Linked DNA regions of Homo sapiens: region 2 is linked to region 1. Evidence: fine-mapped expression QTL. A gene starts in region 1. The other region holds a variant in brackets. All regions are shown on one strand. Distances are between the middles of the regions. Region 1 holds the start of C1QTNF6 (C1q and TNF related 6). Region 2 overlaps RAC2 (Rac family small GTPase 2).

Region 1 (4,512 bases):
AAATGATAAGAGTCCCCGTTGGAGGGACGTGATGCTGAGGGTGTGCAGCTTGGCAAGGGCTGGCGCTAGTCCACCTCCCTGCTCAGCACCTTTGTGCAGTCAACTATCTATGCAACCCAACCTTATCCAGAAGCCCTGCAGGGAGGGTTCTGTAGAGAGAGTTAGTTCATTGGAAGATGGTTGTGTCAATCATCGTAGACCTGCCAATCAGATGCCAAGGTGGTAAATTGGAATTAAGGGGTAGGACTAGGAGGTATAAAAAATTCTAAAGGATCAGAAAAGTGTAAGTGTTGGTGAGGATCTGTCTCTGGCCTTGGCCAAGAAGGGGTCTAGGGCTCCAGGAGAGAGGCAGGAAGTAGCCTGGACACCAGGCGCTAGAGACAGTCCTGGGTTGGGTGGGCAGGAAGCCGGGCAAAAAGACCTTTGAGGTGGTGCAGCTTCTGGGGGCTGGTGCCGAGTTATCACAGGATCAGAAACTCTGCTTTTGAAACCAGACTGGTTTTTACACTTCTGGCGTTTCTTTGTTTATTTCCTTTTTGTTCTCCTTTAACATTTAGTAGAATTCAAAAATATTTTTTTTGTGGTTAATACATGTAGACAAGGTACAATTATTACTTTTTAAAATGCCACCCTGTCTCAGCTGAGCACTGAGGTGAGGGCAGAGTTTTAAAGGGGCAGGATGGCCAGGTGCAGTGACTTACTCCTGCAATCCCAGCACTTTGGGAGGCCACGGAGAGAGGATCACTCGAGTCCCGGAGTTCGAGACCAGTCTGGGCAACATAGTGAGACCCTGTCTCTATTTTTCAAAAATTAAAACTAAAAATAAATAAAGCGGCAGGAGCCCTGCCCCCCACCCCCAGAGCTGGATGGTAGCAGCAGGAGAAGGGGGCTGGACAGGAAGTCTCCAGAGCCACCTCCCTCTTCCTGGAGGTGACTCTTCCCAAGCTTCTCTCTGCCCACCCTGGTTGGGTTCCTGGTTCTGCTCAATAAGGAGGTCAAATCCTCAGAGATCAACATCCTCCCTGTCTGAGACTGTCATCCTCAACTTTTACTTATAAATGACAAATCCCAGTGGTTTTGGAAATCCCAAAATTCCCTTCTTTTTCCCAGCCACAGATATGACCTCATGAGAAAAGCTGAGGTCTTAGAGTCAAATCTGAGACCCAGAATAGTTTGCAAGCTGTGTGACCTAGGGCTAGTGGCTGAACCTCTCTGGGCTTCCTGCTCCTTGATACTTACAAGGAAATGACACCACCCTTTCCCTCCCAGGTAATTTGGAAGGATTTCAATGCAGGAAAAGTGCCTGCCTTATAAAAGACTTAAAAAAAAAAAAAAAAGTGTGCTTTGACTTCTTCCCTGTGCCTGCATGGGATGGGAAGGAGAACTTCTCCCAGAGGACTGGCATGGTTTGGGAGCATTTCTGTTTCCTATTGGCCCCAGCGGATGGGAGTCAAAGGCTGTGAGACACAGAACCGTGGCCTGGGAGCAGGAATCAGGAAGCCGTTAACGAGGAATCATAACCACAGCCAGGATCACGAACTAGCTCTGGGGGTGGGTGCCAGGCAGGGACCAAGTGTGGGAACCAAGTCATAGGGAGGACTTTTGGGGTCCTTGCTGCTTCCACTGGGACCTCTTTGGGGAGGGAGCGGCAGGGCAACTTTTCTCGGTCCAGGCAGGCCGTGCAGAGCTGAGTTTGTGTGTGCCCGGGTAGGGGCGGGCACAAACCGGGAGCAGTGGAGCGCAGCCCTCAGCCAGAGGCAGGAGGAAATGTGGAGGGGAGAGCCTGGAGAGGCTGTCCCAGTCAGAGGGAGAGAGCAGGGCCCGAGATGCTTCCAGGAAGCAAGGAGGGAGGAGAGGAATTCCAGGCTCTGACCCCAGCCCCCAAGCTTGAGGAGCCTCTGGTCACTCACCCTGTGTCCTGTGGCCTCCCCAGGCGACTCACGGACCCTGAGCCACTGCATGGCCTCTGGCTCCTTGGCCCATGTCTGCAATACTAACTTGTTGCTGGCCCAGACCCCCAGGCCCAGCAGAGGAGGGAGAGAGGAGGGGATGGAGGGAGAGAGGGCGGAGGGAGGGCGGAGGGAGAGGGCAGAGCCGCTTCCCACTTCCCCTCCTCCCTGCTCCCTCCCTTTCAGCCTCTGGGTTCTGCGGAGATAAAGGGAGGCAGGGATTTCCTTTGCTTAACTCTTTGGTGATCCAGTGGGGTCTTGCTTGATTCAAAGGCCTAGAAAGTCAGAGCAGGCAGGAGTCTGAGGCCCCCTGATGATTGGGAAATGGACACAGGCATGGGGCACAGGAGCCCCTAGGTTGCTCAGGAAGGGGGAGGCAGCCCTGAGTCCACCCTGAGCTAAAGTGCTTAACTGCTCTGAGTCACAGAGGCAGGGTGGGTAGCAGAGAAGGTGCAGGTGTTGGCCCTCCAGGCACAGGCTAGAATCCTGGCCCTGCTACCACAGTCGCGTCGCCTCTCAGAGCCTAGGTGTTCCAGAACTGCAGTCCTCAGCCCCCTTTGTGCCAGGCACATGGGAGGGCTTAACCCATGTTTGTTGGGTGAATGACCAGGCTGACCTCCTCAGGTATCATGCAAGTGTTACCAGAGAGGGGTACTGATCAGACCCCAAGAGAGAATTCTTGGATCTTGCACCAGAAAGAATTTGGGGTAAGTCCACAGAGCAAAGTGAAAGCAAGTTTATTAGAGAAGCAAAGAAACAAAAGAATGGCTACTCCATAGGCAGAGCACCCCCAAGCACTGCTAGTTGGCTATTTTTATAGTTATTTCTTGATCCTATGCTAAACAGGGGTGGATTATTCATGAGTTTTCCAGGAAAGGGGTGGGAATTTCCTGAAACTGAGGCTTCCTCCCCCTTTTAGACAATATAGGGTAATTTCCGGACATTGCCATGGTATTTGTAGGCTGTCTTGGTGCTGGTAGAAGTGTGTTTTAGCAAGCTAACACATTTTAATTAACATACAATGAGCAATAAGGATGACCAGATGTCACTTTCATTGCAATCTTAGATTTGGCAGGTTTTGGCTGGTTTGTTTACCGCATACTGTTTCTCAGCAGGGTCTTGATGACCTGTATCTTGTGATACCAGTCCTGCCAACTTCCTATCCCTTCCTGTGACTACAAATGCCTGACCTCCTGGGAATGCAGCCTGGCAGGTCTTAGCCTCATTTTACCCAGCCCCTATTCAAGATGGAGTTGCCCTATTTTGAACACCTCTGACATATTTCCCTACTCTCTTTTACGAGGGAACGTTTAATCTTAAGGGTTGTAGAGGCATGAAGATCCATCTTCTGTAACTTCTTCAGGCTGAATAGAGGCGATGATATTCCTGCCTAACTATTAGAGTCTCTTGGGTTTGGTGCAGAGAGGAACTGAGTAAGAAAATGTTGGTGTGTTCAGAGTCATTTGTAACTCTGAGTCCTAACAAAAGGTGATATCTGGAAGATTAATGTGTTCAATTTAAGGAAGCACTGAGTAAGCTTATCTTGCATTCTTACACAAAGAGTATAGCAGCAATATATTCTACAACAGCAAAGTAAAATAAGTAAAATTATCCCAAGTAATCCAAATAAGAAGGCTTTCCATGAACTGGGCAAGAATGCCTGTGACTTATCGGGTAAAATGAGGCTGAGACCTACTGGGCTGCATTCCCAGGAGGTTAGGCATTCTTAGTCACAGGAATTGCTAGATGAGCTGATACGGAGTTGCTAGACGATTCCAATACATGCTCAGAATTAGATACTGATCCAGATTTTTATGTTATCCATCCCTCTTGTTTCTGACGAGAAGCAGTCAAGAGATGACTGTTTGGTTCACAGAAAGAAGCAAGGTCAGTCTAAATTGCAGACAAAAAACTCAAAAACAATGGATGAGACTAGAATCTATGACAGGTGTACCATATTTTTTGAAACACCGTTTTTCTCTCTCCAGTCTCCCATTTTTTATTAAAAACAAATCATGGTAGGACCAATTTATTTGCAAAATAAGCTTTAGTCTTATTATACTTGGCTTCATTATTTGCATAAAGTGCAGCAAGTATAATTATTTGCCATACAGGCTCCTTTTAAAATTGGCTTTGTTTCATAAGGTATCTTAGATTAGATGTTTTAAAGCTTTGAGCCCAGCCATGGATTTACCTATGCCTGCAAGAACCTGTATGAGTTAGATAAATTCCTCTCCTCTTGAGGTCCCGAGATAACTCGGGGCTCCCAGGCCTGTCAGAAAGTTACATTCTTTACTTACCACAGGTCAGGAACCCTATACAGGGACTTCATACACAAGGTACAAGACCAGTTTTTCCAAGAGGCTTTTATTGGCTCTATTAGTCAACTTTAATTCCTTAAAGAAGTCTGTTTATATTTGAAAGCATGCCACTCGAGTCAAACCCTTGTTAAATAACCAGTTTCTCCAATTGTGTCCTGTTACAAAAAAAAAAAAAGAAGAAAGAAGGAAAAACAGATTCTTACTGCACTTATGCAAATAACTATATTGCCGTAAGTTAAGAA
Region 2 (4,234 bases), 36 kb after region 1:
TGGGGCTCTCTGCTGGCTGGACAGCCTCCCCACTGGCCTGTGAGCTCCTGAGAGCGGGCTCATGCTTGACCCACCCCCAAGCCTTGGGCTTGACACACGGTCTCAATAACTATTTGCTGAAGGATTCAATGATTGAATAAGTCTGTGGTTCTATCAGCATTTTTGACTGCACAGTTGTTTGTAAATGAGGAAAATCCCCAGGCCACCTGGTGGCAAATGGAGTAGAGGCAGAGAGAGGGAAGACAGGAGGCCAGTGAGGAGGCTGTGGCTACTGTCCAGGGGAGACATGGCAGGGGTTAGGTTAGGGAGCAGCCGTGGGGACAAGGGGTGGATTTAATAGACAGAGGCTGAATTGTCCAAGCTTGGTGGCCAGTGAATGCCAGGGTGAAAGGATCGGAGGAGTTTGGGGGACCCCAGGCCTCCGCTTTGAAGAAGGGACAAGGAACAGCCAGTCTCTAGAATAGAAAGCACCAGATGAAGTGGCCTTGTCTGGCAGGCACTTTCCTCAACCACCAGGCCATGATTTCATTGCAAGAAGGGGCGAAGTGAGGCATGGAACCTGCTGCCAGCCCAGGCCTGGCACTAGGTGGGCACTTGGGAGGGGTTGTTGTCACATGAAAGAGCAAACCATGGTGTCAGCTCCTGCCCACAACCGGCAGGTCTTCCTGTTTCAAAACAGGTTCTCATTGACTTCCCATAAGCTTTCTCTTTCCTATATGAGGGGCCTCCATCCTCAGCCAATTTGCAGAGCAGAAACAAGTGGCTCACCCCACTTGGAGTGGCTGCTGGGAACAGTTATACAGTGGGAAGAGCACTGCGCTAGGAGTCCTACCGCTTCAGTGACAAATGCTGTCAGCTTACCGTAACAAAAGGTGTGACCAACGGTGACATTAACAATTGGGTGGTTTCATTTTCTTCAGTTCCCATAACAAGGCAGCTGTTAGCATTGGCTCAGCTGCCCACTGCTGCTGCCAGGAACTCACGCTCCTTTTATCTTTCTGCTCATCCCCTCTCAGCACGGGGCCTTGTATCTTCATGTTTGTGGCTTCAAGCTCACAAGACGGCTGCTGCAGCTCCAGACATCCCACCTGTCATTTTTTTTTTTTTTTTTTTTTTGAGTCTTGCTCTGTCACCCAGGCTGGAGTGCAGTGGCGCAATCTCGGCTCACTGCAAGCTCCGCCTCCCGGGTTCACACAATTCTCCTGCCTCAGCCTCCCGCATAGCTGGGACTACAGGCGCCCACCACCACACCCGGCTATTTTTTTGTATTTTTTAGTAGAGACGGGGTTTCACCGTGTTAGCCAGGATGATCTCGATCTCCTGACCTCGTGATCCGCCCACCTCAGCCTCCCAAAGTGCTGGGATTACAGGCGTGAGCCACCGCGCCCGGCCTGGGCCTGTCATTTTTTTAAGGAAGAAAACAACTTTCACAGAAGCCATCTCTCCCGCTGACTTTCATTCACATCGGCTTCTAGGCCAGAACTATGTGGCCTGAAAACCCCAGTGACAAAACCAGCTGGAAAAACGAGTATTTTGTTGGTGTTAGGTACGGTGCTGCTATGCACAAAACTAGGATTCTGTTAGCAAGGAGGATGGGAACAGAGGGAGAGGGTGGGAAAGGACAGCATCTGCCTTGTCAATTTGAGCCAAACCTGTGCCCTCCCGCATCCTCATCTCCTCTTCTGCAAACCGTGGCTAAGAGTACCTATCTTGGAAGGCTATTAGAACATTAAATGAGATAATATGTGCATGGGAGCCAAGACAATGAGTAAAGGAAGTTATTTACTGACATTATTATCATATAGAAGCAAAGATTGTCTCTACTGGGGTCGACCTAACGGGCTGAACACACATGGAAGGAGATCCGGGCCCACCTTTGCCCTGCAGGGAAGTTCCAGGAGCAAAGGAAAGGGGTCCAGTATGTTCAAAGGCCTGGAATGAAAGAAGCATGAATGTGGAGTGGAAGAAATGACAGTCCAGTCTGATGGTAGAGGCACGAGTGCAATAAGAGTGGGAGGCAGAGGATGGCCAGACCTTCAGGGCCATGGTTTGTTGCGGAGGCTCTGGAGTTTATCCCAAGGCTCTGTGAAGAGGAGGGATCAGAAAGAGGCTCCCTCAGACTCTGGCCAACCTCAGGGGGTGCCTCAGGGATCTTAGACATCGAACATACTAGGGAGTGGGGTCCTGGCCGCCTGCATCTGTATGGTGCCATGGATGGGTGGGGTTTAGTATTTCCTTTCTGTTTCAGAAGAGAAGTAACTTTGAAAACATCATGACTTTGAGCTGAAACTAAGAAAAGCAAAGGGGTTTCCCCTCTGCACCTAATCCCTTTTAAGGGGGGCTCCCAGGAGGTGAGTGAGCTGGAGGGGGTCCTGCCTCAGAACATGGGGACTAATGGGGATAGTGGGGTTGGCTGGGAGCTCTGGGAAAGCACAATGTGGAAACTCAAGCATTTCATGGGCTGGAAATTGGGGTCTTCTGGGTTGTCAGGGGCAGCCTCTTAGATCTCTTAGCCTCTCTA[G/A]AGTGTCAGCCTCCTGAGGGCAGGGACTTCTGAGCACTGCTGGATCCCTGGCACCTAGAACAGTGCCAGGCACAGAAGAGGTGCTCAATAAATGTGTGTTTGATGAATGAGTGAGAAGTTGAGATAGAGGAGAGTAATTGTCCGCAGGAGGGGGAGGTCTGGCACCTCCACAGAACTTAGCAAGTCCTGAGGTGGGACTGACTGTGCAGGCACTGTTGTGCCCATGTCGGAACTTCTTAAATCCTCACAACAACCCCGCCTCTCTTTTAAAGAAACTCCCCTTTGCTTATCACCTTCGGGGTCCAGCATTGTTTCATTTCACTGCTGAAATGAACACTTTCCCATGACCTCCAGTAGTGGAGGTTGAGGGTTTCTCGCCCAAATTCCCAAATTCCCGCCAGGCTCTCAGCCCACTTTGGAACTCACCCTCCCCCCCAGTACACACGCTTTCGCTGGGGTTGCCGCAGTTCTGTTCCAGCATGGCATATGGTCCATGCCTGGCCAGTCAGAGCACAGCACTGCACCACTCTGACAAATATGATTGGTTAAAAGGGGGCCCAGGACCTAAGCTGGTCCAATCACAGTAAATCTTAGTTAGAACTTTGCCTGGGATAGACATTTGCTCTTTTTGGCTGAACTTGAACTTGGAAGGATGAGGCCCTGAACTTGAACTTGGAAGGATGAAACCCTGAACTTGAACTTGGGAGGATGAAGCCCTAAGTCGCCTGCCTGAGAATGAACCAGCCAGCAGAAGGCAGAGCCCAGAGCTAAACAAGCCTCGATGACATCATTTGAATACCTTGATCAAGCTGCACCTGAAATCACGATATCTCCAAACTTGAATCAATAAATTTATTTTCTGCTTAAGCAGGTTGAGTTGGGTTTTCTATTTGCAATAGCAAAAGTCCTGACTGGCAAGGTTTAAAAGTTTGAAGACTCTCACAGGTAAGTGCAGCTCAGGATCCTGTGAGTGCAGCAGAAAGTCTTAAGAAATGGCAGGGGCTGGTTGAACCCAGATTTTCCATTGGCTGAGCAGATATCCCCAGAGGCGTAGAAAATTAAATTTGTTTTATGTTGTTCCAAAAGAGGAGAACTGAGGCCAGAGGAGCACACTTCTGAGACACTCATTTTTGCTGGGTAGAGGAACTCTCTGGCAAGCAGGACCATCGATATTAGAGCAGCTGGCCTCAGGAGGGAGTAAGAGCCCCATCCCTGAAGGTACACAAGTTGTGGCAGCAACCATCTGGCCTGCAGTTTCCAGAGGGGAGTCAGGCGTGGGGTGGGACTGGAGTGAACGGGTAGATGCTTCCACATGCGGCAGTTGGCACTGACGGCAGGAACACGGGGGTGGCTTAATGGGTCCTGGGGCTCCCCTCTGGCCCTCAGGAAGGCAGGAGCATGAGGGGCTTGGGATGCAGCACCTGCAAATTTGCACGTTCCTGGCCTCAGGAGGCCTCCAGTACAGAAAAGACCATCAACGAAGCTCTGCAGCCATCTGCTAAGAAACGCCACAGGGAGGGGACAGCATGGCCAGCCGGGGTGCCATCAGGCTTTGGGTGGGGATCCTGGAGGATCAGACCCATCTAGGTGGGAGCGCTGGGGTGCAACCTGGAAGGAAGATAAGCAGGGAAAGAGAATTTGGGGACATGCAGAATCCACAGCTCTCGCCTTCCTGGCTCACAGCTCATTCCCACCTCCAGGTCTTTGCTCAAG

What was found. PIP is the estimated chance that this variant, and not a neighbour inherited with it, causes the effect. A credible set is the group of variants that fine-mapping cannot tell apart.
Region 2: its variant is the best candidate, but not a certain one, in a credible set for the expression of C1QTNF6 in whole blood (INTERVAL, PIP 0.68).

What each region holds. Positions count from the first base shown.
Region 1 is chr22:37,186,253-37,190,764 of GRCh38, forward strand. It overlaps C1QTNF6 (C1q and TNF related 6), which reads right to left and starts at 1,995. Exons shown (of 3, transcript NM_031910.4): 1 at 1,911-1,995. The coding sequence starts at 1,961. It overlaps IL2RB-AS1 (IL2RB and C1QTNF6 antisense RNA 1), which reads left to right. Exons shown (of 2, transcript NR_199008.1): 2 at 1-570. RefSeq lists enhancers at 1,099-1,734, 1,735-2,368, 2,369-3,004, 3,005-3,638.
Region 2 is chr22:37,221,911-37,226,144 of GRCh38, forward strand. RAC2 (Rac family small GTPase 2) reads right to left here. Exons shown (of 7, transcript NM_002872.5): 7 at 3,360-4,129. Among named protein-coding and RNA genes, the nearest start is that of SSTR3, 12 kb to the left of the region's middle. RefSeq lists a silencer at 873-1,012. The variant G/A (reference allele first, on the strand shown) is at 2,522.